Linked DNA regions of Homo sapiens. The protein of the gene in region 1 interacts with the protein of each later gene in a pairwise test. Each region holds a gene or a part of one and is shown on either strand. Other genes may lie near its edges.

Region 1 (16,183 bases):
TAGTATATATTACTTACATGCAGTATGTTAAAACTTAATTAGCAGATGTGTTGTGTGTGTCTGTGTGTGTACACAACTGGAATCATACCATCCGCATCTTGCATTGTGCCCTTTTTCATTTAATATATATTGGAGATCTTTACAAGTCAGAACATATAGATCTAACTCATTTTTTTCATGGCTATATGGTATTCCATTGAATGTATTTTTCATAATTTCACAGGTTCTTTATTGAGGGACACGTAGGTCGTTAGTCTTTTACCATATTCTTTTTTTTTGAGACGAAGTCTCGCTCTTGTCCCCCAGGCTGGAATGCGACGGCGTGGTCTCAGCTCACTGCAACCTCCGCATCCCGGGTTCAAGCGATTCTCTTGCCTCGGCTCCCCTAGTAGCTGGGATTACAGGCGCCTGCCACCAGGCCCAGCTAATTTTTGTATTTTTAGTAGAGACGGGGTTTTACCACGTTGGCCAGGCTGGTCTAGAACTCCTGACCTCAGGTGATCCACCTGCCTCGGCCTCCCAAAGTGCCGGGATTACAGGCATGAGCCACCGCGTCCGGCAGTCTTTTACCATTTGCAAACAATATTGCAATCAACATTTAAAAATGTGGATCTTTACATATTTTTGCCAGGATATCTGTAGGGTACATTTCTAGAAGTAGAATTGCTAGGTCAAGGAGTAGATAAAATACATTTAAACATTTTGATAGCTGTTACCAAGTTGCTCTTTGATGAAATTGTACCAATTCTCACTCCTACGAACAATGAGAGTGTTCCATTCTCTAAATCGTTTCAGATATTTGACAAGATAAAAATTAGCACCTGGTTTAATTTGCTTTTTTTTTTTTTTTTTTTTTTTTTTTTTTTGAGACGAAGTCTCGCTTTGTCAGCCAGGCTGGAGTGCAGTATCGCGATCTCAGTTCACGGCAACCTCCGCCTGCCAGGTTCAAGCGATTCTCCTGCTTCAGCCTCCTTAGAAGCTGGGATGTAATCCCAGCCTGTAGGTGCCCGCCACCACACCGAGCTAATTTTTGTATTTTTAGTAGACACAGGGTTTTGCCATGTTGGCCAGGCTGGTATCGAACTTCTGGCCTCAGCTGATCCAGGCACCTCGGCCTCCCAAACTGCTGGGATTACAGATGTGAGCCACTGTGTCTGGCCCAAACTATTTTAATGTAATGTAATGTAATTTTCTTGAGACGTAGTCTCGCTGGGTTACCCAGGCTGGAGTGCAGTGGTACGATTTCGGCTCACTGCAACCTCCTCCTCTCGGGTTAAAGTGATTCTCCTGCCTCAGCCTCCCGTGTAGCTGGGATTATATAGGCGTGTGCCACCACGCCTGGCTAATGTTTTTGTGTTTTTAGTAGAAACAGGGTTTCACCATGTTGGCCACGCTGGCCAAATTGTTCTTCTTTTTTTTTTTTTTTTTTTTTTTTGAGACGGAGTCTCGCTCTGTCGCCCAGGCTGGAGTGCAATGGTGCGATCTCGGCTCACTGCAAGCTCCGCCTCCCAGGTTCACGCCATTCTCCTGCCTCAGCCTCCGGAGTAGCTGGGACTACAGGCGTCCGCCACCACGCCCGGCTAATTTTTTGTATTTTTAGTAGAGACGGGATTTCACCGCGTTAGTCAGGATGGTCTCGATATCCTGACCTCGTGATCCGCCCGCCTCGGCCTCCCAAAGTGCTGGGATTACAGGCGTGAGTCACCGCGCTCGGCCTTTTTTTTTTTTTTTTTTTTTTTTTTTAATTGAGACGGAGTCTCGCTCTGTCGCCCAGGCTGGAGTGCAGTGGTGCAATCTCTGCTCACTGCAACCCCGCCTCCCGGGTTCCAGCGATTCTCCTGCCTCAGCCTCCCGGGTAGCTGGGATTACAGGCGCCCGCCACCACGCCCGGCTAATTTTTGTATTTTTAGTAGAGACGGAGTTTCGCTATGTTGGCCAGGCTGGTCTCGAACTCCTGGCCTGAGGTGATCCACCCGCCTCGACCTCCCAAAATGCTGGGATTACAGGCGTGAGCCACCTCCCCCAGCTCCTTGCTTTCTATTTCTACTGGGCAGTGCTGCTCAGTAACCATGCCAGTCCCGTCCCCGCCTCTATGCGCTGGGATTCCGCAGCCAGAATACTTACATCCCTGGGGCCCCAAGGGGCTCACTAAACCACGTGCCTTGTCCAGGTCGCGTTTTTTTGTTTTTGTTTGTTTGTTTTTTTCCTCCTGGTCTTGTCCTTTGTAAAGCCTTAGAACAGTCGTTAAACAACCCAGCAAATATGCAATTCGCGTTTTCAGTAAATTTATCCAAACCGCATTCCATTCCTTACCCTCCTGCTTCTGCGCAGACAAGCGCCCTTGATGACGTTTGTCCCACGTCGCTCTCCGTTCGCTCCCAGGCTTCTCTGCGCGTGCGCCTCCTCACACGCCTGCAGGTATGGCGTTCTGGTGTCAGCGTGACAGTTATGCCCGAGAGGTACGGCGTCACGGCGAGGCACTTGAGACTGCCGGGCCGGCAAGGCGGTTTGGGGAAGAGGGCGCCACGTGTAGGGAGTGCCAACATGGCATTCTGTCCTGGTGTGGAGAGGGCTAGGGCTAGGGCTGGGGTCGGGGCTTATTCTCTCATTCCTCTCTGTTCAGTTCACCACCACCGTGGTCTCCTGCTGTCCCGCGGAGCTGCAGACTGAAGGGAGCAACGGCAAGAAAGAAGTGCTGAGCGGTTTCCAAGTGGTGCTGGAAGACACAGTGCTTTTCCCTGAGGGCGGGGGACAGGTACCAAAACGATCTCTTCCCAGGAAGCCCCCAGTTTCTTTGTGCTCAGGCCGAAATGCTCTCCTGCCCCTTTTTTCTCAGCCATAATGAATTCAGATGAGCTTTAGTTTAATTCATTTTGTTATTCATTTAATGAGTATTTATCAGCAATTGCTTATCTAGACATAACATATGCTAGATATTATTCCAGGCTGTAAGGATAACCGGTGAACAACACAGTGCCTTTATATACGTGGAATGTTTATTGAAGACAACTGTGTGTGCTAGGTATAATAAGTAATAAACAAAAACCAAGTAAAGGGAAAGAGAGTGATGGGATGCTTGTCTAGATGAAGGGTAAGTTATTTCAGTAGAGACCTAAACGAAGTGAGGGGGTGAGTCTTTGCAATTATCTAGTGGTGCTGGGGGGCAGAGGGAGTATTCAGGCAGGTAGAATAGCAGGTGCAAAGGCCCCAAGGAAGGAATTAGCTTCGGGTTTTAGGGACTGAAAAAGATGTTCCTGAAGGAGTTCAGGTGAGATAGACGGGTTACAGTAGTACAGCAGAGAGCATATTTATCAGTGCTGTGATGAGGACTAGGTACAACATGAGCGCAAGTGAGGTACATTGTGAAGATGGAAGAGGAGGATAATAACACCAAAGGTGGGCATTATGAGAAAGGCTTTTCTTTCTTTTCTTTTCTTTCTTTCTTTCTTTTTTTTTTTGAGACAGAATCTCTCGCTGTCATCAGGCTGAAGTGCAGTGGCATGATCTCAGCTCTGCAACCTCCGCCTCCTGGGTTCAAGTGATTCTCCTGTCTCAGCCTCCCAAGTAGCCTGACCAACATGATGAAACCTTGTCTCTACTAAAAATATAAAAATTAACCAGGCATACTGGCAGGCCCCTGTAGTCCCAGCTACTCGGGAGGCTGAGGCATGAGAATCACTTGAACCGGGAGGCTGAAGTTGCAGTGAGCCAAGATTGTGCCACTGCACTTCAGCGTGGGGGACAGAACAAGACTCCGTCTCAAAAGAAAAAAAAAAGGTGTATTAAGGTGTGTGGGCAGCGAACCATGCAGGTTATTTTCTTTCTTTTTTATTTTTAAGAGACAGGATCTTGCTATGTCACCCAGGCTGGAGTGCAGTGGCCTGATCTAGCTCACTGCAGCCTCGAACTCCCAGGCTCAAGCAATCCTCCTGTTTTAGCCTCTCCAGTAGTGGGGACTACAGGCGCACAACCAACATGCTTGGCTGCTTTTTTGTAGAGATGAGGTCTCACTTTATTGCCCAGGCTGATCTTGAGCTCCTGGCCTCAAACAGTCCTCCCACCTTGGCCTCCCAAAGGCTGGGCCTACAGGTGTGAGCCACTGCCCTGGCCTCCACTCAGGTTCTTAAGCAAATAAGTGACATGAGAGAACATGTTCAGTAGACTTGGTATTGAGAGAGTTCCAATTTCATATCAGTCATTATTATGGTGATTTTCCCAGTATGAAGATTTCCCTGATCTGCTGAAGGAAAACCTGTGACCTCAAGTATCCATAGAAGGTCTCATTTTAGACAGCATTTCTTTCAGGAAGTCTTTTTTTGATTCCCCAAGACTGTTAGGTCTCTTTCCTTTGAGGTTCTCTAGCGTCATATACTTTTTCATATTATGGCATGTTATAGGTCATATTGCAATTGTCTGTTTTCCAGCCTCTGTTCTCTAGACTCTTAAGTTCCATGAGGTACCATATCTTGTTTACATTGTATTCTTGGGCTGGCACAGTCTTTTGTAAGCAGTTGGCACTTGAAATGTTTTAAAATGAATGAACTTTTTTTTTTTTTTTTTTTGAGATGGTGTCTTGCTCTGTTGCCAGGCTGGAGCGCAGCGGCGTGATCTCGGCTTACTGCAATCTCCGTCTGCCAGGTTCAAGCAATTCCCCTGCCTCAGTCTCCCGAGTAGCTAGGACTACAGGTGTGCACCACCATGCCCAGTTAATTTTTTGTATTTTAGTAGAGACGGGGTTTCACCATGTTGGCCAGGATGGTCTTGATCTCCTGACCTTGTGATCCGCCCACCTCGGCCTTCCAAAGTACTGGGATTACAGGTGTGAGCCACTGTACCTGGCCCTTTTTTTTTTTTAAATGAGACAGTGTCTCACTCTGTCACCCAGGCTGGAGTGTAGTGGAGCAATCATAGCACACTGCAGTCTCAACCTTTTGGGCTCAAGTGATTCTCCCACCTCAGCCTCCCAAGTAGCAGGGAGTATCATGGCCAGCTAATTTTTTATTTTTCATAGAGGTGGGGTCTCACTGTGTTGTCCAGTCTGATCTCAAGCGATCCTCCTGCCTTGGTCTCCCAAAGTGGTGGGATTACAGGAATAAGCTACCATGCCCAGCCTAAATGAACATTTTTGAATCTAATTCTAATACCACTGCAAGAGGATGGAGTGGAGGGAGGGAGGAAAAATCAGATCATTTTAGAGACTACAAAAGAATCTAGACTAAGGCAAGGAGAGTTGAGGATTAAGATTCTTCGGGTTTTACTAAAATTTTTGTTGCTGTAGTTACAATCTCTTTAATTCTGTTATTCTGAAGATCACAACACATAGGTGTTTAGAATGAAAAGGACTGAGAATCCTCTCATGGAACAAAGTGGACTCATTTCACTTGGCATTGCTTTCTCCCTCTCCCTTAGGGAGCCCAGATTCTGGGTCTCTCACCCTAGAGGGTCTTTGTACCTAGAAGTTAGGGTGAGCCCTGCCTTGCCATTGATTACGTTTACTTATTTCCACCAGCCTGATGACCGTGGTACAATCAATGACATCTCTGTGCTGAGAGTGACTCGCCGTGGGGAACAGGCTGATCATTTCACCCAGACACCCCTGGATCCAGGAAGCCAGGTTCTGGTCCGGGTAGATTGGGAGCGGAGGTTTGACCACATGCAGCAGCATTCAGGTAAAGGCTGGGATGGGGGACATAACACCGGAGCAGTTGCCATGTATGGGGATGCTGTGATGACTGAGACGTAGTTTGGGTTCTCTAGGAGTTAACCTTTTGGAAAAGACAGACTATTCAGAATCAGCTGTAATTCAGGAAGGATATCCTAAATGTTATAACAGCAACATGAACAACTGAAGTAAAAAAAAGTATTAGAATAACTGCTGGATTTAGGTATTATCAACTTCCCACTCGATATCTCCATCTGGATGTCTCACAGCCTTTTCAAACTCAAAATGTCCAAAATGAAACAAAAAGCCTTCCCCTCCCTCCTGGTCTTTCATTAGCATCCTGTGTGTTCATCGCAGGGCATCAGCATGCACCTAGTCACTCAAGTTCTGGAAGTCATTCCAGATACCTCTTCAGGCATAGACAGCCAGCCAATCACTGAGTCCTGTTGGTTTCTTTTCTTTTTTTTTTTTTTTTTTGACACAGAGTTTCGCTCTGTCACCCAGGCTGGAGTGCAATGGTGCGATCTCGGCTCACTGCAACCTCTGCCTCTCGGGTTCAAGCGATTCTCCTGCCTCAGCCTCCCGAGTAGCTGGGATTATAGGCCCCCACCACCATGCCCAGCTAATTTTGTATTTTTAATAGAGACGGTGTTTCACCATATTGGTCAGGCTGGTCTTGAACTCCTGACCTCAGATGATCCGCCTGCCTTGACCCCGCAAAGTACAGGCATGAGCCACACCCCCCCAGCATGTTGGTTTGTTTTCTAAATGTCTGTCCACTTCTTTCCACAGTCACTGTCATCCTAGTCCCAGCTCCTAGCTGTCTTCCCCCTGGACCTCTCTAACAGTTTCCTAATTGATTGCCCCACATTCAGTCTGGCTCCTCTGTAGCCCATTCTCCACATAGCACCAGAACAGTCTTTTTTTTTTTGAGTTGGAGTCTCGCTCTGTCGCCCAGGCTGGAGTGCAATGGCATGATCTCGGCTCACTGCAACCTCACCTCCCGGGCTCAAGTGATCCTCTTGCCTTGGCCTCCCGAGTAGCTGGGATAACAGGTGCGTGCCACCATGCCTGGCTAATTTTTGTATTTTTAGTAGAGACGGTGTTTCACCATGTTGGCCAGGCTGGTCTCGAACTCCAGACCTCGTGATCCGCCCGCCTCGGCTTCTCAATGTGCTGAGATTACAGGCGGGAGCCACTGCGCCCAGCTGAACAATCTTAAAAATGAAAATATGGCAGCCAGGTGCGGTGGCTCACGCCTGTAATCCCAGCACTTTGGGAGACCGAGGTGGGCAGATCATGAAGTTAAGAGATCGAGACCATCCTGGCCAACATGATGAAACCCTGTCTCTACTAAAAATACAAAAATTAGCCAGGCATGGTGATGCGCGCCTGTAGTCCTAGCTGCTCAGGAGGCTGACACAGGAGAATCGCTTTAACCTGGGAGGTGGAGGTTGCAGTGAGCCGAGATCGCGCCACTGCACTCCAGCCTGGCGACAGAGCGAGACTCCATCTCAAAAAAAAAAAAAGAAAAGAGAAATGGCTGGGCACTGTGGCTCACTGCTGTAGTCCTAGCACTCTGGGAGGCTGACACGGGAAGATCGCTTGAGGCTAGGAATTCCATACCAGCCTGAGCAAGATAGTGAAACCCTGTCTCAGAAAATAAATGTAGGCTGCTCGCGATGGCTCACGCCTGTAATCCCAGCATTTTGGGAGGCCAAGTCGGACAGATCATGAGGTCAGGCATTTGAGGCCAGGAGTTCGAGACCAGCCTGGCCAACATTGTGAAACCCTGTCTCTACTAAAAACACAAAAATTAGCTGGGCGTGGTGGTGCATGCCTGTAGTCCCAGCCACTCAGGAGGCTGAGGCAGAATTGCTTGAACCCAGGAGCCAGAGGTGGCAGTGAGCTGAGATGGCACCACTGCACGCCAGCCTGGGCAACAGAGCAAGACTCCGTCTCAAAAAAGTAAATATAACTTTTTTTTTTTTTTTTTTTTTTTGAGACAAAGTCTCGCTCTGTCACCCAGGCTGGAGTGCAGTGGTGCAGTCTTGGCTCACTGCAACCTCTGCCTACTGGGTTCGGGTGATTCTCCTGCCTCAGCCTCCTGAGTAGCTGGGATTACGGGCACGCACCACCACATCCGGCTAATTTTTGTATTTTTAGTAGAGATGGGGGTTCACCATGTTGGCCAGGCTGGTCTTGAACTCCTGACCTTGTGATCTGCTCGCCTCGGCCTCCCAAAGTGCTGGGATTACAGGCTTGAGCCACCGCACCTGGCATAAATAAATATAAGTTAAAGTGGAAATGTAAACAAGAAAAATAAAAACAGACTGAGCGTGGTGGCTCATGCCTGTAATCCCAGGCACTTTGGGAAGCTGAGGTGGGCAGATCACCTGAGGTCAGGAGTTTGAGACCAACCTGGTCAACATGGTGAAACCCTGACTCTACTAAAAGTACAAAAATTAGGCATGGTGGCGTGCACCTGTAATCCCAGCTACTTGGGAGGCTGAGGCAGGAGAATCGCTTGAACCCGAGAGGCAGAGGTTGCAGTGAGCTGAGATTGCACCACTGCACTCCAGCCTGGGTGACAGAGCGATACTCCATCTCAAAATAAATAAATAAATAAATACAAAAATAAATAAAAATAAATATGTAAAATGAAATAAATTTTATTTAATTTTATTTGTTATTTTTATTTTTTTTTGAGACAGAGTCTCACTTTGTTGCCCAGGCTGGAGTGCCGTGGTGCAATCTTGGCTCACTGCAACTTCCACCCCTGGGATTCAAGCAACTCAGCCTCCTGAGTAGCTGGGATTACAGGTGCATGCCACCACACCCGGCTAATTTTTGTATTTTTAGTAGAGACGAGGTTTCACCACGTTGTTTCAGGCTGGTCTCAAACTCTTGACCTCATGATCCACTTGCCTTGGCCTCTCAAAGTGCTGGGATTACAGGAGTGAGCCACCGCGCCTGACTGAAATAAATTTTAAAAAATGAAAATATTATGTCACTCCTCTGCTTAAAGCTCTTCAGAGGCTTCCTGTAGGTCTTCGTGTAAAGCCAAACTTTTTACCATGGCATACAAGCTGTATCTGGGTGGCTCTTGTCTACTGCTGTAGCCTCATCTGGTGTCCCTTGACCTCTTGCTGGCTGCATCCTGGCCTTGCTTGTCATCTCTGGATTCCTTTGACATGCGCTACTTCTTTCTTCCTTAAGGCCTTTGGCTGTCTTGTTCCCTCTTCCTTGATAGTTCCTCCTCTTTCTCCTTTTCTTCCTCCTCCTCTTCCTCTTCTTTCTCCTCATCATCACTCTTGTCAATCAGGGATGCTGCTGTATCTCTTATGTCAAGCCCTGTGCCTTGCATTTGGTAGGTACTCAATAAATACTTGTTGAATGGATGAATGCTGCATATTGGAACTTAAGTTCACTGGGCACAGTGGCTCACACCTGTAATCCCAGCATTTTGGGAGGCCAAGGCAGGTGGATCACTTGAGGTCAAGAGTTCAAGACCAGCTTGGCCAACGTGGTGAAACCCCATCTCTACTAAAAGTAGAAAAATTAGCCGGGCACGGTGATGCACGTCTATAATCCCAGCAACTCAGGAGGCTGAGGCACGAGAATTGCTTGATCCTGGGAGGCGGAGGCTGCAGTGAGCCCCTGCACTCCAGCCTGGGCAACAGAATGAGACTGTCTCAAAAAAAAAAAAAAAAAAAAAAAAAGGAAGTTAAGTTCAAGTCCAGCCCCTTATAAGTTACATTGCCATGGCAAGTTATTTGATCTCTCTAGGCTTCAGTTTCCTCATCTGTGAAATGGTATCATAAGGCCTCTTGCAGAATTCTCATTGTGATTTTCAATAAAGTATCTAAAGTGTATTACCCAGTGCTTAGCAGGTCTTCAACAAGGAGAATTTCTGTGCTTTTATCATTGTAGCTCATATTTTATCATTGTGGGAGTATGTAGGCTTCTCACTTTTCTCCTGTCTCTGGCTCTCTTTGCTTAGGGCAGCATCTCATCACGGCAGTTGCTGACCATCTATTTAAGCTGAAGACAACATCATGGTGAGTGGGAGGCATAAGACTAACTGTAGGCAGGCCCATCCCAGCACTGGGAGGGAGGCGGAGGTGGGAGAATTGCTTGAGCCGGGGAGATTAAGGCTGTGGTGAGCTGTGATTGCCACCAAATGGCAGCATGGGTGACAGCGAGCTTGTCTTAAAAAAAAAAAAAAAAAAGGCCAGGCGCAGTGGCTCACGCTTGTAATCCCAGCACTTTGGGAGGCCGAGGCGGGCGGATCACGAGGTCAGGAGATCGAGACCATCCTGGCTAACACGGTGAAACCCCGTCTCTACTAAAAATACAAAAAATTAGCCGGGCGTGGTGGCGGGCGCCTGTAGTCCCAGCTACTCGGGAGGCTGAGGCAGGTGAATGGCGTGAACCCGGGAGGCGGAGCTTGCAGTGAGCCGAGATCGCGCCACTGCACTCCAGCCTGGGCGACAGAGCGAGACTCCGTCTCAAAAAAAAAAAAAAAAAAAAAAAAAGTGGTGAGAGGGTATGCTTGTTCCAGTTTTTAGAGGAAAAGCTTTCAGCTTTTTCTTGTTCAGTAAGATATGTTATCTGTGGCCACTGTACTTCTGACAGGGAGTTAGGGAGATTTCGGAGTGCGATTGAGCTGGACACCCCCTCTATGACTGCAGAGCAAGTAGCTGCCATTGAGCAGAGCGTCAATGAAAAAATCAGAGATCGGCTGCCTGTGAATGTCCGAGAACTGAGCCTGGATGATCCTGAGGTGGAGCAGGTAAGGGTAGAGCCAGAGGGATGGTTTCTGCGGAATGATTCCTCATCAGATTCAGACAGTCCCTCCCCTCTCCTTGAGTCCAGGTGAGTGGCCGGGGTTTGCCTGATGATCATGCTGGGCCCATTCGGGTTGTTAACATCGAGGGCGTTGATTCCAACATGTGCTGTGGGACCCATGTGAGCAATCTCAGTGACCTTCAGGTAAGTGAGGAACGGCTGTGGAGTGGCTGAGAAGAGGGATTGGGGGAGAGGGGATCACATGGGGCTGGGAGTGGGAGAGGGGGATAATCGAGGAGTCCTAAGTGAAATCTCCCCTTCACTGTTTCAGAGCTGAGGAACAGATAGGTTTCTCCTGCCTTCAGGTTCTAGGATCCGCTGTGGTTTATGCATGTGCACACGTGTGTGTGTGTGTTACCCCCTTGCCTCATGTAGGTCATTAAGATTCTGGGCACTGAGAAGGGGAAAAAGAACAGAACCAACCTGATATTTCTGTCTGGGAACCGGGTGCTGAAGTGGATGGAGAGAAGTCATGGAACTGAAAAAGCACTGACTGCTCTGCTTAAGTATGCCTGTTTCAGTACCTTCGATTACCTCCCATTTCTGAGATTTTCGACATAATCTCTTACCTCTGGGAGATAAGATGCAATCGTAAATGATAAAGTGCGGCCAGGCGTGGTGGCCCACATCTGTAATCCCAGCACTTTGGGAGGCCGAGGTGGGCGGATCACGAGGTCAGGAGATCAAGACCTTCCTGGCTAACACCGTGAAACCCCGTCTCTACTAAAAATACAAAAAGAACTTAGCCAGGCATGGTGGTGGGCGCCTGTAGTCCCAGCTACTCGAGAGGCTGAGGCAGGAGAATGGCGTGAACCCGGGAGGTGGAGCTTGCAGTGAGCCAAGATCGTTCCACTGCACTCCAGCCTGGGCGATAGAGCAAGACTCTGTCTCAAAAAAAAAAAAAAAAAAAAGATCAAGTGCTTTGGATAGTAAATCAGAACCACGAAAAGTGGTTAATTCCTTTGTATGTTTTCTCCCAGTTGCCTAAGAGACCTCCTCAGAATATCTCCTGGTCCCTGACTGCAGGGAGGCACCATAGCAAGAAGGAAATTATTGATTTATGTCCCCAACATCAGAAACGACTGGGAAGCTGCGCAGGTCTCCTCTGACCTTTCTCTTTCAGGTGTGGAGCAGAGGATCATGTGGAAGCAGTGAAAAAGCTCCAGAACTCCACCAAGATCCTGCAGAAGGTGATTTATTCCATGGAGGGTAGAGAGGGCATGGGCCCTGCCTAGGATAGGCTCTGCAGACTTGGTCTTCTGCCTAAACAGATGTGTAGTTTGTCAAAGTGGGAGTGAGGGGAGAATGAGGTGGAGGGAAGCTGATACTCTCTATTGTTATCCTTTCCATTTATCTACTGAGTTACCATATCCATTTCAGAATAACCTGAATCTGCTCAGAGACCTGGCTGTGCACATTGCCCATAGCCTCAGGAACAGTCCAGACTGGGGAGGTGTGGTCATATTACACAGGTGAGAAATTAGGAGCTGGACACAAGGAAGGGGAACTGTGTTGGGCTTAGGGCTCAGTGTCTTCTCTATATGCAATGTACAGTGGGAGGTGGATTGCTCACTGGTATTCTCAAGGTTGAGTAGATCCTAAGAAATATGTTACTGGCCGGGCGCGGTGGCTCACGCCTGTAATCCCAGCACTTTGGGAGGCTGAGGCGGGTGGATCACAAGGTCAGGAGTTCGAAACCAGCCTGGCCAGCATGGTGAAACCCCTTCTCTACTAAAAGTACAAAAATTAGCTAGGCATGGTAGTACGCGCCTGTAGTCCCAGCTACTCAGGAGGCTGAGGCAGGAGAATCACTTGAACCCGGGAGGCAGAGGTTGTGGTGAGTGGAGATCACGCCACAGCACTCCGGCCTGGACCAACAGAGTGAGACCCCATCTCAAAAATATAAAAAAAAAAAGAAATATGTTACATACCAGGCCTCCTGGGTTTGATATTAACATATTTACTGTAACTCTGTATCTTTTGTTTTTTGTGTTTTTTTTGAGATGGAGTCTTAGTGTGTCTGGAGTGCAGTGGCATGATCTCGGCTCAGTGTAACCTGTGCCTCCTGGGTCCAAGCGGTTCTCGTGCTTCAGCCTCCCGAGTAGCTGGGGGATCACAGGCATGTGCCACCACACCAGGCTAACTTTTGTATTTTTGGTAGAGCTGGGGTTTCCCCATGTTGGCCAGGCTGGTTTTGAACTCCTGACCTCAAGCAATCTGCCCACCTTGGCCTCCCAAAGTGCTGAGATTACAGGTGTGAGCCACTGTGTCCAGCCTGTATCTTTCTTTAGGACTGTCCCCTACCTCCTTTACTCTCTAACAGATTTCTGCTTATCCTGGTGAATCCTATTTAAGGGAGATGGAAACAAACCTGGAGGTTGATTACAAACTGCAGAGGCTGAGAAGGGCAGCTTGCTGGCTTTCAGCCAGTACTCTCTCTTGGCTAAGGGATATGGGACTTTATGTGTACATAGGCAGCAAGGCCAGCCTCAGAAGGAGGGGCCAGGCTTCCTGCAGTTTCACAGCCACCACTCCAACCTGGGTCTCATGTCTGTGTCCTTTGTTGTAGGAAGGAGGGTGATTCAGAGTTCATGAATATCATTGCCAATGAGATTGGGTCAGAGGTAAGAGGAGCATGAGATTCTCTACCCCGGCCTGGATAGAGACCTAGGGAGACATAAGTGAGGGGCGCTAGTTTAGCCAAAGTCCCTCCACATGAACACATGAGGAGGAGGAAATAGCCATTCATTCAATACTGTTTTCTTAGTACTAGCTATATGCCAAGCTCTGTTTTAGGTGTTGAGCTAGATCTATGTTATTGCTCTCTCTGGGGCTGTGATGTTTATTAGCTTCTGAGCTCCTTTCATCAGAGCTCTAGCTCCTCAAAGCCATTCAGGTTTATGTGTGCTGGGGATCCAATATTAGAAATATATCAGTGGGCTGGTCGCGGTGGCTCACGCATGTAATCCCAGCACTTTGGGAGGCCAAGGTGGGTGGATCACTTAAGATCAGGAGACCAGCCTAGCCAACATGGTGAAACCCCATCTCTACTAAAAATAGAAAAATCAGGCCAGGCATGGTGGCTCACGCCTGTAATTCCAGCACTTTGGGAGGCTGAGGCGGGTGGATTGCCTCAGCTCAGGAGTTCGAGACCACCCTGGGCAACATGGTAAAACCCTATCTCTACTAAAATACAAAAAATTAGCTAGGCGTGGTGGCATGCGCCTGTAATCCCAGCTACTCGGGAGGCTGAGGCATGAGAATCTCTTGAGCCTGGTAGGCAGAGGTTGCAGTGAGCTGAGATTGTGCCACAGCACTCTAGCATGGGCTACAGAGTGAGATTCTGTCTCAAAACAGAAGACAAAAATTTGCTGGGTGTGGTGGCAGGTGCCTGTAGACCCAGCTACTTGGGAGGTTGAGGCAGGAGAATTGCTTGAACCCTGGAGGCTGAGGTTGCAGTGAGCCGAGATTGCGCCACTGCACTCCAGCCTGGGCAACACAGACTGTCTCCAAAAAAAAAAAAAAAAAGTAAATACAGGAGTGGGCAAGCCCCTTTGAAAGCCATCCCCGTCCATTTTCCTCTTCCTCTGGCTTTACTTACTCTTCCCACTCCTGATGGTCTCTAGCCTAGAGATTTCCAGGTCTTTTGTTTGTTTGTTTGTTTGTTTGTTTTTTTCAGAGACAGAGTCTTGCTCTGTCACCCAGGCTGGAGTACAGTGGCGTGATTATGGCTCACTGCAGTCTTGAACTCCTGGGCTCAAGCAGTCCTCCCACGTCAGCCTCCTGAGTAGTTGGGACTGCAAGCATGAGCCACCATGCCCCACTATCTCTTTTGTATTTACTCCAGAACCCTTCTTTGGAATGCCTACTGTGGGTAAAGCGTTGTGTATCTCTCTTTTCATAATTCTTCTGTATAGACAGAACTGATTCTCAAGAAGCTCATATTCTAGTCTGGGAGACAAATATGTATGTCGACATTTATAATTCAGAATGATAGAGTGATGAATGCTAGAGGTGGAGGAGCACATTACCTGAAGGATAGGGAGGTTTCAGGGGAGGGGCCCTTGAAGACTGCTTAGAGGTCATCAGACAGACAAGGGGCAGAGGCGGCCAGGCAGAGGGAAACCTGGTGGTTTAGGCAGTGGCAGGGAAAGGATGTGTGGTGGGGAAAAGTTTGCAAGAGTGAAACCATGAAAGGCATTTTCTGCTTAGCCAGGATCAGCAGTCTTCTGCTGCCTTCTTAATGTTTCACCTAAGTTCCCATAGTTGCTCTCAAAAAGTTTCTTGGCCCTCGTGGGCCAGTGTGGAGGGGCTGTATCATCATTCATCAGGAGCGTCACTTGGTGGTTTAGGGGGAAATAATCTATTCTTAAGATTGAAGAGAGTGCAGGATTTGGGGGGTTGACTCTACATCCTTCAGTATCAGAGCTTATCTCCTTGTCTTACCTCCTAGGAGACCCTCCTGTTCTTAACTGTGGGCGATGAGAAAGGTGGTGGACTCTTCTTACTGGCAGGGCCACCTGCGTCTGTGGAGACCCTGGGGCCCAGGTAATTCTTTGTGGACTCTCTTGCACATGTAGTAGAGCCTGTATCCTACAAATACATTCCTTTACTGAGTCAAAGGACCATCACATCTGCGATCTCATTTAATTCACATCATGGGCATGTGAGGTGGGCTGAGCAGAGATAATTATTACTACTGTCATTTCCAGTTTGACAGTTGAAGGTCTTTTGGCTCCACATCTCACATGTATGTTTTTGTTTTTGTTTTTATGAAATGTGTTTGTTTTTGTTTTTTGAGATGGAGTCTTAGTCTGTTGCCCAGCCTGGAGAGCCCAGGCTACTCAGCTCACTGCAGCCACCACCTCCCAGGTTTAAGCAATTTTCCTGCCTCAGCCACTCAAGTAGCTGGGATTACAGGTGCACATAACCATACCCGTCCAATTTTTTGTATTTTTAGTACAGATAGGGTTTCACCATGTTGGCCAGGCTGGTCTCGAACTCCTGACCTCAAGTGATCCACCTGCCTTGCCCTCCCAAAGTGCTGGGATTACAGGTGCTCACCCTGCTCTCTGGAGATTAACATAATTTATCTAGCCCAATTCATAGACACTGATGTTGTTTCCAGTTATTCACTCTTATGTGATGATGGTACATATATCTTTGTGCATATGTGCAAGTGTTTTTTTGAGACAAAGTTTCACTCTTGTTGCCCAGGCTGGAGTGCAATGGCACCATCTCGGCTCACTGCAACCTCTGCCTCCCGGGTTCAAGCAATTCTCCTGTCTCAGCTTCCTGAGTAGCTGGGATTATGGCGCATACCACCATGCCCGGCTGATTTTTTTATTTTTAGTAGAGACGGGGTTTCATCCTATTGGTCAGGCTGGTCTTGAAGTCCTGACCTCAGGTGATCCACCCACTTTGGCCTCCCAAAGTGCTGGGATTACAGGTGTGAGCCACCATGCCCAGCCTATGTGCAAGTGTTTTCAAGAAAGATTCCTAGAAGTCATCTACTCTTCTTATCCCTCTCCCAGTCCCTGGAAAAAGACTCAGAGCTGCCCTTGTTTTTTTTTGTGACTTTTCCCTCAAAGTCTCCCTGACTATACCTCTGTTCCCCAGGGTGGCTGAGGTCCTGGAAGGCAAAGGAGCAGGGAAGAAAGGCCGTTTTCA
Region 2 (16,619 bases), on another chromosome or scaffold:
CATGGGGATTCTATTCAATCTCTCTGTATAGCTGATCCTATGTGAAATGTCTCCAGATCCTAAGACAGTAGAATCCAGGGAGCTCAGGGAAGCACGTGCACCAGTCTTACCTGCACATGCTGTTCTTTGATGCAGACCCACACAGTATAGACGCCAGGTTCCTTGGGGGTGTAGGAAATGTAGTATGTCCCATCCTTGTTATCCTGGACCATTGTTCTGACTGGGCTGAATGGAGATAAGAGTCAAAACACCACTCACTTCCACAAGCTGGCTTCAGTTGCTACTATTTCAGAATGTAAACTCTACACCATCCCATTCAGTATTAATGTTAAATATACCCAAACAGGATGCTTCTTCCATTTGCTTCAGAAGTTAATTTTACAACAGAAGGTAAACAGCATAAATTCCAATTTAGTCTGATATTCAGACAAATTCCTTGAATATATTATTGTGTCCTTTTCAACAGGCTTCTGTTGAACCCTCTTGCTCTGTTGTCCCTCCTCCATTCTACAATTCCAGAGAAATATAAACATGCTCCAGGCATAATTTAGTACCAAAGGGAGACTGAATTTTGAAAAGGGTACCATTCAGTCTAACACAGAATATTTTTCAACTTATTCTAAAGCTTGAGATGAAAACAATCTGAGGGGCAGACCATAGCTTTGAGAGAGAATTGAATACAAAACCCACACAAGAAAACACATTTGGTCACGTAACGTTTCATAGTATTATGGGGAGGTAAGACGTAACTAGTGAGTTACACTCCAATATCTTTTTTTTTTTTTTGGACCTGGGGTCTTGCTCTGTTGCCCAGGCTGGAGTGCACTGGCACAATCACAGCTCACTGCAACCTCGACCTCCTGGGCTCAAGGGATCCTCCCATCTCAGCCTCCTGAATAGCTGGGATTATAGGCATATGCCTCCACTCCCGGCTAATTTTTTTTTTTTTAATTTTGTAGAGACAGGGTGTCCCTATGTTGCCCAGGCTGGTCTTGAACTCTTGGGCTTAAGCGATCCTCCTGCCTCCACTTCCCAAAGTGCTGGGATTACAGGCATGAGCCACTGTGCCCAGCTCCAATATCTTAAAGGACCTCATGTTTCCAGTTTTCTCACTGCCTGTTATCCATGACACCTAATTGTGTCATACAAACCTGTCTTTCTTATCTTTAGGGACAACGGCAACTTGAACGTTGTCTCCTCCCCTGCCCATGATTTCTCCTGCGGCATCCTTACAAAGCAGGGTGAAAGAGGCCGTCTGTTTCTCCCGGGCTCTGTGGAGGTCTGAAAAAGATAAACACTCGGTCCTCACCTCGAATGTAAACTGCAGTGACTACATCTCCATCTTGCTTTTTCTCTTCAGAACAAAGGGTTGTACTTTACTGTAACCACCCTGGGTCCCTTTGTTTTCTCTTCCCCTTCTGCCTCCCAGAGTACGCCTCTTGGGAGTCCTTCCTGGTTGGCCTGGTTCTCTCAGCTAGCAGCTGCTTTGGATCACACAGGATCCTGGACCTTACCTTCAGTCCTAGGACTGAAGGTCCTATGCTTTAAAAATACTCACGACTGACCGAGGTATTTAAAGAAAACCTCTAGACCCTGTGAGAGAGGATAGTAACCCCAAAACCACCCTCCCTAAGCTCCAGATCCTGCTGGGCTAGGCAGGGAGTACAGCTGACCAGCCTCACGACCCTCCATGTTTTGAGATCCTCTGCAACTTGGTAGCTCATGCCAAGGTACTGGGGGGATATCCAGTAGCTACAGCCCCTACTCCAGCATTCAGATGAAACAGGGTTTCTTAACCTGAGGTTCATGAACTACTATGAGGTCTATGGAAAGGCTTATGAAGAGTCTAAAAATCTGGAATTGTATGCACAAGTTACTGGGTGTTTCTGTAGGAGAGAACATTCTCAAAGAGATCTATGGCTTCCAAACAGTTAAGAATGCCTGTGTCATTAAGATGCAATCTTCCTATCAGGACTGACCTACTGACCTGTGAAACATATGTTTTAATAATATGCTTCCATTAGAAAGGGAACACTCGTTAAAAAAAACCATTTTTTCCCCCAATTAAATGAAACACCTACCATATCCTTTTAAATGCCAGTAAAGTTGATGTGAACCAAAAAGGGCCTAAAGGAAAGGAAACCGTAATCTCATCTTCCTCATTCCTCTGAAACTCCCTTCAGAACTTGATCTAGGAATCCAGGGCCTGCCATGCTCCTCTCTGAGCAGGCAGAATTTCACCTGGCCCTAGTCACTGCTGTTACCTCCAACGGGCACTGTCTCTGTTCTGCCATCTGATAGAAACAAAACATGATCTGTGTGTTTCTCAGCCATTATTACTTCTCTGAACTGGAAAAGGGTCAAGCCTCACTCCTGTATTAACTGTACCCTAGCCAGAACAAACCAGAAAGGGCAAAGGTGGGGGTCACTGTCTTTCAGATCAGTTTATCTCCCCACCTTTGGTAACCTGGTCAGTAGGGCATGCTTCCTAGCAGAACAAGCCACCAATCTTCACACACCACCTCCCTGTCCACTGCCCTCTCAATGTCAATGGGAAATGCCTTCCTACCTTCTCCTTGTAGGACACATTTGGCTGGATCAACCTCTTTGGTATTAATCGTACCATAAATTTCATAGCCACGGCACTGGCCTGCTTTCTCCTGAGGACAGAAGCGTATCTTATCATTTACTCCAGGACGGGTGCTATATTGAACTTTGTTCAGCTTCCTGAGCCGTTCTACCACCACCCTCTTGGTGATGAGGATCTCCAAGTCTGAGCCGCTGGTCAGCAAGTGCTCGGTGAACTCCACTCCAGTCCGCATGTCTGCCAGTAACTGTTCCAGCTGGGCCTTCTGCAGCTGCAGGGAATTTTCCTTCTGGGCCCGTATGTCTTCCAGCTGCTTCAGCAGCTTGTCCCGATGCTCCTCAATGGCCTTAATGTAGCCCTCCGAGAATGTCCGGACATCAGCTGCCACTGCCTCCACTCGCTTCTGGAGGGCACTGTTTATTATGTGGATCTGAGCCAGGGCTTCCTCCAGGGCCTCCACGTGGGGCTGAGTACCTTTGAGGAGCTCCCACACAGAGTCCCCATGCTTGTGGATGACATTGCTGGTGAAGTCACAGGGGTGTTCCCGATGCTCCCCCACCACACAATCCTGGCACACGGGCCGGTCACAGAACTCACAGAACAGCCTCAGTTCCTCTGCAGGGTGAACAGGACACAGGATGGGCTTCCCAATCCGGCTGTAGCCTTTCAAGTCTTTTAGGTCCACCATGGTGTGGTAAGTCGTTTTCTTCTGCCGCCTAGGGGCAAACAGAATCAGTAACAGGAAATAAGGGGATAATTCTGTTGGGAATAGTTGGGCAGAGAGATTTTAGGAGCACAGGATCTGAAGTTAAACAAACCTGATTTCAATTCCTTGCTCTAATCTCTAATTGCATGAACCTCTCTGATTCCAGTTTCTCATCTGTACAGTGGGGACAATACCTACCTGAAAGAGCTGTTGTATAGAATAACGTGTGAACAGACTAGGGCTCTGGCTGGCTACATGCCTATGCAGAAGGTTGCAAGACTATGACTGCATGCTAGAACTTTCCCAAAGAGTTTAGACAAGAGTCACAGTCGGCTTCCTAAGGTAAGCTAGCAGTGAGGGCATGGCAGAAAACCAGCATCAAGAAACAGAAACCATGCCAGATAACACAGCAATAAAGTCCAAGCAATTAAAAAGCAGACACCAAGTCTCATCTAGCTTGCATCTAAGATTTTGGTGAAGCATTTCTGTTGACCTGTATCACCCAAATCAGCAGGCTAGAATTTTTTTCAAGAGACATCGTCAACATCATTAGAAAGCGTGAAACCGGCCGGGCGCGGTGGCTCACGCCTGTAACCCCAGCATTTTGGGAGGCTGAGGTGGGCGGATCAACTGAGGTCAGGAGTTTGAGACCAGCCTGGCCAACATGGTGAAACCCTGTCTCTACTAAAAATACAAAAAATTAGCCAGGCGTGGTGGCATGTGCCTGTAATCCCAGCTACTGGGGAGGCTGAGGCAGGAGAATCGCTTGAACCTAGGAGGTGGAGGTTGCAGTGAGTGGAGATTGTGTTATTGCACTCCAGCCTGGGCGACTAGAGCCAGACTCCATCTCAGAAAAAAAAAAAAAGAGAAAAGAAAGTGTGAAACCAATGGTTAGTAGAATCAAAGCTCTCTTTCTAATTCCTTTCCTATAGTAGCCCTCTAGAGATGTAGGGAAATCCTTAGGAAAACATGGTGACTGTTCAGAGTTCCTCCATTAGCATTGTATCAATTTGAAGCTTATATGCCTATTCTGGCACCAGAAGAGTGGCTGCAGAGAAAATAGGGTTAGCTGGTTTGGCTGGCAGCAAGACAGTCGCAGGGACTATCACATAATTACAAGTTAAAAATAGAGTGAAGTCTACAAACTTGTTCTGTTAGTGTAGCCAGAAAACAAATGGAAGTAGAACCCGAAACCTATTTTAGGCTAATCCTAAAACTGTGGTCATTTTATATTCTGGTGTCCTAGGATGGGGTAAGGTAAGAGTACGAAGGGACAAAAGTGATCCATCTGACAAACTATTCACCAAATGCCATAAAACACATAGTCTGCACCCCAATTAACACCTACCAGCCCACCTCACCAAGCTCCAGAGTAACTCTAAGGTACACAAAGCAAAAGCTGAGGTCCGGCCAATCATCATCACCTATTCTAGGAGCACAGCATGGGTTACTGGAATGTAGTCAAAATGATCTGGATTTAATACTCAGTTCTGTTACACACTTACCAACTGTAGGACCTTGGCAAATCACATAATATTGCTGAGCTTGTTTCCCCAATTAATAAATGGGGGCGAAAACAGGGCCTGCTTTTCTGTAAGAGTTGCAAGATCGAAGGAGATCAAGAACAGGATCTATGCTGTTATATTCATTCTCCTGTTTCTCCAGCACCCAGTACAATTATTCACTACACGAATGACTGAAGGAAACTGTAGCTGCACTTTGTAAATTGAAAGGGTTTATTGCTATTGCTATATTAGGCTATATATTAGGTACTATATTAGGCTAACCGGGTTAACTGTTGTACTGGAGTATTTGCTATTGCATTGTTATATTGCTCTTTGACCTTCCACGGTATTTGAGAAGGCTTTCCTTTTCATCTGCTCACCGAGGGATTTGTCTTGACACCTCTTTGTAATCTGCTCTTAAGCTACACCTGATGGAGTGTCCCATCTTTACCTATGAGCCTGGCAGCAGAAGTGGCAGAGGTTGGCTTTGCAGGTCTGACACCTCTTCTCTACTTCCCTGTCGTTGCACAGGTCACACACCAGGCCCTGGCCTTCCCCACGTAGGCTCTCCAGCATCACATCATTCACGGCCAGGTGGTCTATGGTTAAAGCCTTCACTCCACCCATGGGCAGGTCCACCTGAGCATCACATACAGGACAAAGGATGCCGATCTGCGACTGCAGACTTCGTGGCTTGAGTTCCTGGAATATTGACCCCTCAGAGCTTGTGTCAGAGTCTCCCCCTCGGATGTCCACTACTGAGAAGGGCTCCAGCTGCTCCAGACACGTGGTGCAAACTGTATGCAAACAAGGCAAGAGCCTGGGGGCTTTGAAAAGCCCCAAGCACAGGGGGCAGTGAGTCTTGCCTGAGTTCCCAAGTGCAGTCCCACTAGTGAGTTTGCTTACAAAGCCCAGCAGCGGTTTTCTGTTTTCTGACATACTCCTCACGTTTGTGACCAATATTAGAAAGGGCCCTGGGCAGTTCTACGATTTAGTAGCAGGTGATTAAGCCCACCCAAAGAGAAAGTCTCCAGAACTTGAACAGAGACCATGGGGACTCCCTCGCTGACAAATAAAAGGGCAGACGGGAAGACGAGGCGTCCTCGAAGGAATCACCCACAGATCTACTCAGGAGGGCCCCCTCCTTTCCACTGCATCCCACACCAGACACGCCCACGCCCTCCTCTGCCCCGCAAGTCCTCCCCGGATGCGCTTCCAGGTCTAGCTCTCCAGCTAGTCCTGCTGCCAACAAAGTCACCCCTGCACCTCTCGCTCCCTCCACTGCCACCCCCCTCCCGCCGCCCGCCCCACTGCGCGCCACACGCGACAAGCGCCGACCCCACCCGCGCACGATGAGGTAGGGGCCCTCTTGCTCCTTCCCTCTGCGAAAGGCGCGCGCCGGGTGAGGGAATTGCAAGCCGCCGGCGGGCTTCTCGGTGTCCACCGCCTCTCCCGCGCCTCGGCCCGGGACGCCCGCGGGCTCTGGCCCCTCCTCACACCAATCCCAGCCCGGTCTACTCCGGCGAGTCCAATCACCGTCCGAGAGCGGCGGCCCTCGCCGCTCCGGGCCCCGCCGCCCTCCAGAGTGACGCCACTAAGCATCCAATAAGTTTTGGAAATTCCACATCTTCGCCAGTCCACTCACGCGGGGGGCGGGACCTGACAAGGCCGTGGGCGGGGCGGCCGAAGGGCTTAGAGTGCGGCGGGAGGAAAAGGCCAAGGCTCGGAGCGAGCGGCATAGTGTAGTCAGCGTCACCGTTTCACAGGGACTGTCCCTCTCTCTGTGGTGACCAGAGAGGCCTCAGGACCTCTTAAAAAGCCACGCTGATTTGGCGCCGGGACGGCCTTCTTTCTGCCCTCGGACTCGTCCCACGAACGCAGACTGGGTTCTCCCATTGGTGGATGGCACTGTCAGTTGGCTCTGCGCTGGGAGTGGGAGACGTTTTTCGGGCTCCCGAGGTCTCGGCCGCTCGGGGGCGCCAGACGTTTCTCCTCCACGCGGGTTTGAGGCTGCGAGGCTCCCCTCTGTCCTCAGGCGCTTACTGTAGCTCACAGGTCCCTCAGGCCTAGCGTGCTGGGTACAAGCACTCCCGCGGCTCCCCGACTTTGGGTATTTTTCGGGGGTGAGGGCATCTCAGGCTCGCGTTACGGGGACCGGTTCGGGAGACCGTGGAGCCGAGGTGTCGAATGGAGGGCTTACTTCGGCCGGGCCAGGGAGCGCCACCCTCCTTGTCGGGCTCGGGAAGGCTTTGTTTTCCGGTCCGGGGGGAGTGCAGATGACCTAAGGAGTTGAATGTCACCCGGGATTCCACAGTCCTGTGTAACAGAAACGAGCTGAGCGAGTTGGACCCGCTGTTTTTATCAGTCAATCACGGAGGGCTCCTGCCTGGTCACAGTGAGACAATGGACGGTGGCAATGAGGGACAAGCCCTTTGTGGGCTTAAAACTAATTGGGAAGATGAACACGTCCGACCCCTTTAACTTTATAATTACACGGCCACCTTCTCTGGCCTTACCAGGCGTCTCCTGATTCTCCAAAATTCCAAAAATGGAAACAGCTGCTCCTTTCCCCTCCACCTGTTGTTATCTCCAGTTGCGTCAGCTTGTCTACTGGGCCCTCACTGCTTTCTTTGTTCATGACCTTCCCTACTTAATTTGTACCCAGTGGGCGACTGTTTCACTTGATTCCTTCATTATCTGTTTCATGCTATAGGCATAGTGTCTGGAGCCTAAGCTTTTAAAAGTATGGAATCTGAAAAAAAGTTAACCCCAAAATATGAAAAAAAAAAAAAAAACCATTATAAAATATAAAAATGAAATGTTTGGCCATTTCCAAAATATAACACGCCAATGAGTCAAATGCCACCTTTATATAAAATGTGCAAGTAATTTCCAAATGTTAAGCATATCTCCAAAGATTTTTAAATAGTCCTTACCTAGATTTTTTTCAGCCTCTTGTCCTTCTTGCATCTACTCTCAAAATCGGCATTCGCCTCTCCAGTAGGCTGGAGGAAGTCACAAAAACTGTGTGGACTTGGGTTTGCTATATATTCTTGCTTTGAACTTCACCTTTACCCTCCCTGCTGCTTGGCTGTGCTTTACTTCATCTCTTGTTCATACTGTATCACATTTCTTGTGGTAGTAGTTTCAAGCTTCTCTTGTTTCAGAAGTACTTCATAATTTACACGTGCAATATCTCATTTAGCAGTATCTCATTTAACCTTTAACAATATTGTAAGGAAATGGCCTCAAAGAGGTCTTGCCAGGTCTTGGATGGCCAGCCCAAGTTAACATATCTGGAACTTGAACACAACCTTATGATGCCATATCTAAGATTATATTCGGGCTACCTCTACCTTTCCCTTTTTTTTTTTTTCTTTTTTTGAGATTGAGTTTTGCTCTTGTTGCCTAGGCCGGAATGCAATGGCAGGATCTCGGCACACTGCAACCTCCACCTCCAGGGTTCAAGCGATTCTCCTGCCTCAGCCTCCCAGGTAGCTGGAATTACAGGCATGCACCACCACACCTGGCTAATTTTTTGTATTTTTAGTAGAGACTGGATTTCACCATGTTGGGCAGGCTCCTCTCGAACTCCTGACCTCAGGTGATCCACCCGCCTCGGCCTCCCAAAGCGCTGGGATTACAGGCGTGAGCCACCGCGCCTGGCCACCTCTACCTTTCCTTTCTCAGTTTATTAAGCATCAAATCCCTCACACATGCTGCAGCTAATTCCCTTCCATTGATGAGAAAAACAAGGTTGTCTGAAGAACTGCCTCGCCTTTCTACTTAAAAAATCCATGATTCCTCACACCTCCTCTCTTACCTCTCCTGACTGCCATTCTTTAGTGCCAAGATTAGTTCCTCAAGATTTTTGTTTTTTATCCCAACCTCTCCTGCTTCCTCAAAACCTTATTCCTATGTTTCAGTCAGTTTTTCTGCCAAGAGTTCTGATGAAGTCCTGAAAGGGGAAGCAAATCGTCTTTTGATCTAGCTCCCCTTCAACGTATTAATAGTGGTGGTTCTCGCCCCTATATTTCTCAAAAGGGTGGTCTCACTGTCTGCTTTCATCATCTTTTTATAACCATCACCACCGATTTATTCCTCCCCTCTTTCCTATTGAGACTTTCTTGTAGATCATGAGTGACCATATTGCTGGCCTTTTCTCAATAGGCAATCTCTTTAGTATTTACCATTTTTTGTACTTCCTCATCCTTAAAACTTGCCTCCTCCTTGACTTCTGAAATACTCTACTCTCCTAACCTTCTGTCTCTTGGGCTGCTTCTCACACCCTCCATCCTCACTAGTTCCCCTTCCTCCACTTTATCTCCTACCTTTGCGTCTACATTTCCTCACGTGGATGATTCCCAGACCAACGCTTCCAGTACTGATGTCTCCCCTGAGCTTTTGACATAGATTTCTAAATCTGCACTCAAATATGTTCCTATCACCAAGTCCCACATAGCTTAAACTTCACTGAACTTCTTTGCTCACTGAACTGCACTCTCTGAATTTTCCTATTTGATTCTCTCCAGAGTATCATCATTCTCCTTTCCCTCCTGCATGAAACCTTATAGTGCTGCTGGCCTCCTTTCTCTTGTTCCATATCCAGGCAGACACCGATTTCTTTCCATCCCCACTGCCAACACCTCACTGCATACACTTTTTAAGATGCTATAGCTCTTTATCACCCTCACCTTAAGTATTACAATAGTGTCTGAATTATCCCTGCCCTTTATTTTTTTTGATCTACACAGTTCTTCCAAATTAATTGTAAAAACATATAAAAACATGATACAAGTCAGTCTTCATTCTAAAACTTTCAGTAGCTCCCCATTTTTGTAGGATAATATCTGCATTCTTCAATAGATTCATAAAACTGCTTGTTTAGTTATTCCCTAAACATTGCCAAGCACGTTTCTTGGTGTTTGCCAAGTTGTCGGCAACATTCTCCTTCCTTTATTATTTAAACCTACCCTTCCTTCTATGAAAGCCCTACTTCACACTACCCCCTTGAAGCTTTCTCTTATTTCAGGGCTCCAGATTCAAGCCTAATGCTGTTTTGCCTATATTATTCACTTTGCAGTTTGTGCTACCTTGTGGTATTGTTTTTATTTATTATGTGTGTATATATATGCATGTGTATATATTTACATATGTGTATATATTTACACACTATATATATCACATACATACATGTATACTCTCTCTGTTAAGATGGAAAATCTTGGCAACCTAGACAGTAGTCATTTAATAAAGACCTGTTATTGATGAAGGAGAGAATGGTGATCTCAAGTAATGGGAGGACAAACAGGACCACCTTCAACCAAGAGTTTTATGGATAGTGCAGACCATAAGTGATATGGGGTGACATCACAGGACGAGAGAGGATTTGTTAAGGATGCTCCTTTCTCAGAATTAGTTCGGTGTCTTCTTCCATGCTCACACATTGCTTCATCTGTCTGGGGAAGCAATAGTCATGGGATGAGAGGAACAGGACTGATGAAAGTGACCAGCGTTCATGAAAGTGTCTACAAGACTTTCAGCCCACACCTGTTTGCCCAAGACAGGGAAGATATTGAAGGCAAGAAAGCCAGGAAGGGAGAATGACCCATCAGGAAATCAGGCAAGGCTGGTTTGGGCACTATGCTTGATCATTACCATCAGACATTGAGTGGATATATGGAAAGGGACCAGAGAGTTCTGTCAGACTTATCTTTCACCATTCCATCTGTCTCTGTCACCATCCTTCCTTCTTTCCTTCAAAGGAAGGAGACTCCTTTCTCCTGGGACCTGTGCTCTGAAGTTCAGCCCTGCCTGCCTCCTCTCTCTTCTGTCTTTATCTTCTTTCTGGTGGATCTTTCTTTCCGCTCATGTCCATGCTTCAGTCTCTCCTTCTACCCTATGCCCCTCTCTAGCTCCCAATCCCTCTCTACTTCTTTATAGCCAAGCTGCTTGACAAGAATAGTCTACATTTGCATCTCTTCTTCCCTTGCATTTTACTCCTAAACACAGCGCAATCTGGCATTTGCTCTCACCATTCCTCTGAACTTGCCTTTGCCAAAGTTACCAATAATTTCATATTTGCTAAATCCATTGGATACTTTTCAGTTTTTAACTAACTGAATTCACTATAGCTTTTAACACTGACAGTTTTTTGTTTCAGTTTGTTTTTCTTGTTTGAGACAGGGTCTCACTCTATTGCCCAGGCTGCAGTGCAGTGGTGTGATCACAGCTCACTGCAGCCTCAATCTCCTGGACTCAAGCGATCCTCCCACCTTAGCTTCCCAAGTAGCTGGGATTATATGTGTGTGCCACTATGCCCAGCTAATATTTTTATTTTTGTAGCAATGAGGTCTCACCATGTTGCCCAGGCTAGTCTTGAACTCCTGGGCTCAAGTGATCCTCCAGCCTTAGCCTTCCAAAGTGCTCGGATTATAGGCATTAGCCACTGCGCCTGGTCTGACACTGACAACTTTCTTCTTGAAACTTTCTTCTTCCTCAGTTACCATATGCTATTCTTGATTTTTCTTCTACCTCCTGCCGCTCTGACCACTTCTCTTTTTCTCTACAGGACACTGCTTCACTATGTTGGTCAGGGTGGTCTTGAACTCCCAACCTCTGGTGATCCACCTGCCTTGGCCTCCCAAAGTGCTGGGATTACAGGCATGAGCCACTACGCTGGTGGCTTCTTCTTCCTCTTCCTCGTCTTCCTCCTCCTCCTCCTCCTCCTCTTCTTCTTCTTCTTCTTCTTCTTCTTCTTCTTCTTCTTCTTTTCTTCTTTCTTCTTCTTCTTCTTCTTTTTTAACCTTTTCATCCTCCCTTGATTGATGTGGGATTTGGAGGTGATTTATAAACCATGAGCCCACTTGTTACATGGGGGCTCTTTTTACTATATTATTACCTCCATCATCTCTGAATTCACTCCCTGTTTTCAATTCATTCTCTATAATCCTGTTAGGGATCTTTTTGCAATTCCAGTTTGATCATGCTCTTTGGTAGCTCTTCCATGCCTATGTTTACTCATTTAATATCCTTTGAGTACCTGGAATATGATTTTCCCAAATGTCTTCACAACTTACTCCCTACTAAAATAATAAGTTCCTTGACAGCAAGGACTTTTGACTATGTGCCAGGCACCAGAGATGTATTGTTAAAACAAGCAAAAATTCCTGCTCTCGTGGAACTTACCTTCTAGTAGGGGAAAGCAGCCAATAAACAATAAATATGCTGGGCACGGTGGCTCATGCCTGTAATCCCAGAACTTTGGGAGACTGAGGTGGGCGAATCACTTGAGATCACTGGCCAACATGGCGAAACTCCGTCTCTACTAAAAATACAAAAATTAGCTGGGCATGGTAGTGCATGTTTGTAATCCCAGCTACTCGGGATGCTGAGGCAGGAGAATCACTTGAGCCCGGGAGACGGAGGCTGCAGTGAGCGGAGATCATACCACTGTACTCCAGCTTGGGTGACAAAGCGAGATTCTGTCTCAAAAAAAAAAAAAAAAAGAATAAATATAATAACTGCAGAAACTATACAGTATGTTAGAATGTGAGAATGCTATGGAGAAAAATTAAGCAGAGTGAGGAGCATCCAGTGCAGGATGAGGGTGTTGCAATATAACTGGAGTGGTCAGGATAAGTATTATTGAGAAGGTGATATTTGAGCAAACACTTAAAGGTGAAGGAGGGACCCATGGGGAAAAGGTAGTTCAGATGAGGGAAGAGTTAGTGCTTGCTGAGAGAGGAATGTGCCTACTCATGTTTGAGCAACAGTGAGGAGGCCAGTGTGACAAAATCAGAATGAACTAGGGGGAGAGGAGTAGGAGGTGCCTTCAGGATAAAACTCCATATGTCTTAGAGTGATATATATAATCTCATATGTATATATGGTTTCCCATGACCCTGCCTCTGCCAGCCCAGTCAACCTCATTTCTTGCACTGCCCCATCCAAACCCAAGCATGCACACTGGGCTTCAGCCTTCTTTTATGATTATACAAGCTACTACTTATTCTGCTTCGGACACTCTGCCCACTCTTCTTTGCCTAATGAATTCCAACCCATTCTTCAAAGCTCAGTTTAGACATCAACTTCTTTAGGAATCCTCCATTCACCAAGTCTTCATTAGGCATCCCTCTGTGTGTTACCCGTGGTACTGTGATGATCTCTATCAAGTCTTTAACATTCTGCATTTCAATTTTCTACTCGCTTGTCTGATTCAGCCCTCTGTTCTCACTGTTCCCCTCCTCTTCCACACTGGGAACTCTTAAGCACAAGGGACCTTGTCCTGTTTCTGCATCCTTAATACTGGGCACAGTGTCTGAAACTTAATATGGTTTAATAAATGTTTGATAGTGAATAAATGGCCAAGATTCATGTTTCATTTCTAAGAAACTGATCATTAGGACAGATGACTGGAGAAATTTATTGTTTATTTCAGACAGATCATTTTTGTCTTCTGATTTTCTTTTTTAAAAGGGCCTGATTCCTGAAACACAGAATCTTTAGTGCCATCTAGTGGAAACAGCTCAATAAAAACGCTATACTATGAATAAAACTCAGCTTCCTTTGTTCTATTTTATTTATTTTGAACCAAGACGGACAGAGAAGAGAGGGCTAGGTTGCATAGACTCCAGGGCACACTGCATGCTGGGTGTTTTTATTTTTATCTAAAAGTTCACTCTACCCGAGAAGACTCTAGTTGTGAGATCTAACAAGTATAAATAGTCCCTTATCATTGACATTTTGTGAAAATGGGCAACTCTTCAACTTTGAGAAGGTAAGAAGGAAACAGCTAGAATAATGTGAGCTTTGGAACTCTCCTTGTGTAACTGCTTTTAGGTCAAACTAGAAGTACACAAGATATCAGTTCCATTATTAACAACTATCCTTTTAGAAAAAAATTCTGTACTGTTTTATCCAAGACAGACTCCTTAGCTCTTCTCAATTGACTCCTAGTTGTCTGATCGATTGTCTGTCATGACCCCAAACAATCTGTAGTTGATGTAGTAAGACAGGAAGCTGCACCCAATCTTAGTTGGTCTGATATAAATATAAGCGGTTCTTAGACATTTACACTTTATTCATCTGTTTCTCTGAACTCCCTTGTTTATGTTTATTACATAACAGAGCTCAATATTAATGTTGTTTGAAATACATGTTTTAAAAATTACCTGCTACATTCTGTTAATGTATTTTATTTTTAAAATGTGGATAAATGTGTTGTGATTATATTATTTTTACATAAATTTATCTTCCATATAAAATATTCATAAGTAAAATGAGTAACAGTAAGAAAATGGCACATTTTAGAGATTGAGTTTCGTGCTGCATTTGGCAATAATGCTTGTGATTAAAATTAGTACAGTGCTCATGCTGCTGTGTTAGAGAATTGATCATAAAAGGCTCTTGATAATATTGCATTATAATTTAACACTTTTTTCCTTTTAGGATTCTTTCATTACTAGTACTTATTAAACATGACAACTTTAAAGATTGATTTTGAATGGAAAGTTTTGGTTTAGAAGGGGCCCTTCGTTTGGAATATGTTTGCCCCAGTTATCTTGCTCTCTGTCAGAATGCTAAGTCAATGAGGGCAATCTGTTGAGTTTTCTGTATATCCTCAGTGTCTAGTTGGATGTCTCGCTCATAGTTGGAGCTCAATAAATATTTATTAAATGAATATATGAGAAAATTGAGGTGCAGCAAGGTAAAGACACTGATTTAAGGTCACGTATGACATTACTGGCAGAATTAGGGCAAGAATCCATGTCTTCTGACTCCCACTCCATTGAGTGGTTCAATATAATACTTTGTCTTGAATCAGTACTGCTTTTCGATTCAGATGCCTGTGGCACTTGCCTGGACCCTTTGCTTTGAAAGAACCCATCCTGGCCCTTCTCCAGCCACACCTCTTCCCATGGGCCAAGGAATTCCAAGAGTACATCTCTCCCCTCACCACCCCACCCTCACCTCCTTCAGACTAGGTTCCAGCCACCTACAAGCCCAAAATTCTTTGACAAATAGCCAGAAGCCCACTCCCAGGCCCATGCAGTTGTAGACTGCAGGGTAAGTGTGCACACACTTAGGCCTCAGGAGTGGTGAAAGGACAGCTTTTGGGGATGGTGGAACTTGATCAAGCCTGTTGGAGTGTCCACACACATATGCAAGGGCCTCTGGTAGGATGGAGAAAGATGAGAACAGGCCATGGGCTGGATGCCCCTGTTTGTCCTCTTGCTCATGGCCACTCAAATATTAGGGGTAGGCCTGCCTCCTATATTAAATCTAGTTTCTCCACATATTTAATATAATTTAAACCAGCACTAAGTGAACGCCAGTATTATGCCAGACACTGTGCTGGATATTTTCAAATGCATTACCTCATTTAAATGTTATTCTTCCATAAGAATGCTCAGAAGTAACTTACCCAACTTACCTAAGGGCAAGCAACTGAGAAGTTAAATGCATAACCCGTATCCTCAGGCAGTAAGTACAGTACCAAAATACTGGTGTGTGTGTGTGTGTGTGTGTGTGTATGGTATGTGTGTGTATACATACATATATACATATACTTTTTCTTGAGTAAATAATGTATCTGATAAAAACATGCAAACAATTTACAAGAATATAAGTAAATAGTAAATCTCCCGTGCCAGGCCTCGAGTCAGAGACAACCAGTTAATAATTTTTTTAATTAAAAATACCCACATATTTTAAAATTTATCATCAATAATTTTTAAACTTTTTTATTTGGGAAACTTCAGATATATGATATATACAAGCATAGGGAAAAGTATAAATAACCCCTAAGTACCCCTCACTCAACATCACCAGTTACAGCATTCTGTCACTCTTGTTTAATATACTTCCCCAACTTTTATGTTGTTTTCTCTGCTGGAGGTTTTCAAAGGAAATACCAGATATCATGTCATATTATTAAATTATATTAAAATATTAGATACTTAATTTATAAAGGTTTTGATGTAAAGATGGAAAATATTTTGAATTTTCCATGAAGACCTCTTAATTTAAAAAATGCCACATAAGATTATATATGCCATATAACATTTTACCAATGTTATTTAAATTTATTTATGTATTTATTTAGAGATGGAGTCTCGCACTGTTGCCCAGGCTGGAGTGCAGTGGCGCAATCTTGGCTCACTGCAACCTCTGCCGAGTTCAAGCAATTCTCTTGTCTCAGCCTCCCAAGTAGCTGGAACTACAGGCGCACACCACCACACCTGGCTAATTTTTGCGTTTTTAGTAGAGACAGGGTTTTGCCATGTTGGTCAGGCTGCTCTCGAATTCCTGACCTCAGGTGATCCACCTGCCTCAACCTCCCAAAGTGCTGGGATTACAGGCCTGAGCCACCATGCCCAGCCCTAATTTTTAAATATTTAATGTTTCCTCCTTTGTTCCAAAGGACTCACGGGGGAGTTAGGCAATAATAATTTTGTGACTATAAATTAAACTTAAACGTGCATTCCACCTCATGCCATGCAGTTTTCTCTGCAGAATTCTGTGAGACTGTGTCTGTTTTTATTTTATAGTCCGTCCACTTTTTATCTTTCTTTCCCTTCTTTTGGAAGAGCTGTTGAAAATGGTAAGCAAATAAATGCCATTTTTTCCTCACTTCTCTGAGTGATAAAACCTGAAAATGATGAATATATAAGGGCAGACTATGATTTAATGTAGTGCCTTTTCTAATTCAAATGACAACTAACTTTTCTGAGCTAAAGTGTGCCCATGTCGTGATAATAATATTTAGAGGATGAGTAGGTTATAATATATCATGGCATACAGAGAGGTCTATACATTA

Evidence for each region.
Region 2: the proteins of AARSD1 (region 1) and TRIM45 interact in binary tests that used the Homo sapiens proteins (3 or more experiments, as listed by UniProt).

Annotation. Positions count from the first base shown.
Region 1 is NC_000017.11:42,950,678-42,966,860, reverse strand, and holds the start of AARSD1 (alanyl-tRNA editing protein Aarsd1), read left to right. Parts: upstream 1-2,406; 5' UTR 2,407-2,420; coding exon 2,421-2,459; intron 2,460-2,623; coding exon 2,624-2,755; intron 2,756-5,509; coding exon 5,510-5,669; intron 5,670-9,665; coding exon 9,666-9,723; intron 9,724-10,300; coding exon 10,301-10,457; intron 10,458-10,540; coding exon 10,541-10,657; intron 10,658-10,888; coding exon 10,889-11,019; intron 11,020-11,636; coding exon 11,637-11,703; intron 11,704-11,893; coding exon 11,894-11,985; intron 11,986-13,082; coding exon 13,083-13,137; intron 13,138-14,966; coding exon 14,967-15,061; intron 15,062-16,132; coding exon 16,133-16,183. Other genes in the region: PTGES3L-AARSD1 protein, read left to right, coding at 2,624-2,755, 5,510-5,669, 9,666-9,723, 10,301-10,457, 10,541-10,657, 10,889-11,019, 11,637-11,703, 11,894-11,985 and 3 more. UniProt on the Homo sapiens protein: Functions in trans to edit the amino acid moiety from incorrectly charged tRNA(Ala).
Region 2 is NC_000001.11:117,115,465-117,132,083, forward strand, and holds the start of TRIM45 (E3 ubiquitin-protein ligase TRIM45), read right to left. Parts: upstream 6,286-16,619; 5' UTR 5,738-6,285; coding exon 5,250-5,737; intron 3,304-5,249; coding exon 2,570-3,303; intron 1,282-2,569; coding exon 1,152-1,281; intron 226-1,151; coding exon 111-225; intron 1-110. UniProt on the Homo sapiens protein: E3 ubiquitin-protein ligase that plays a role in the regulation of inflammatory response.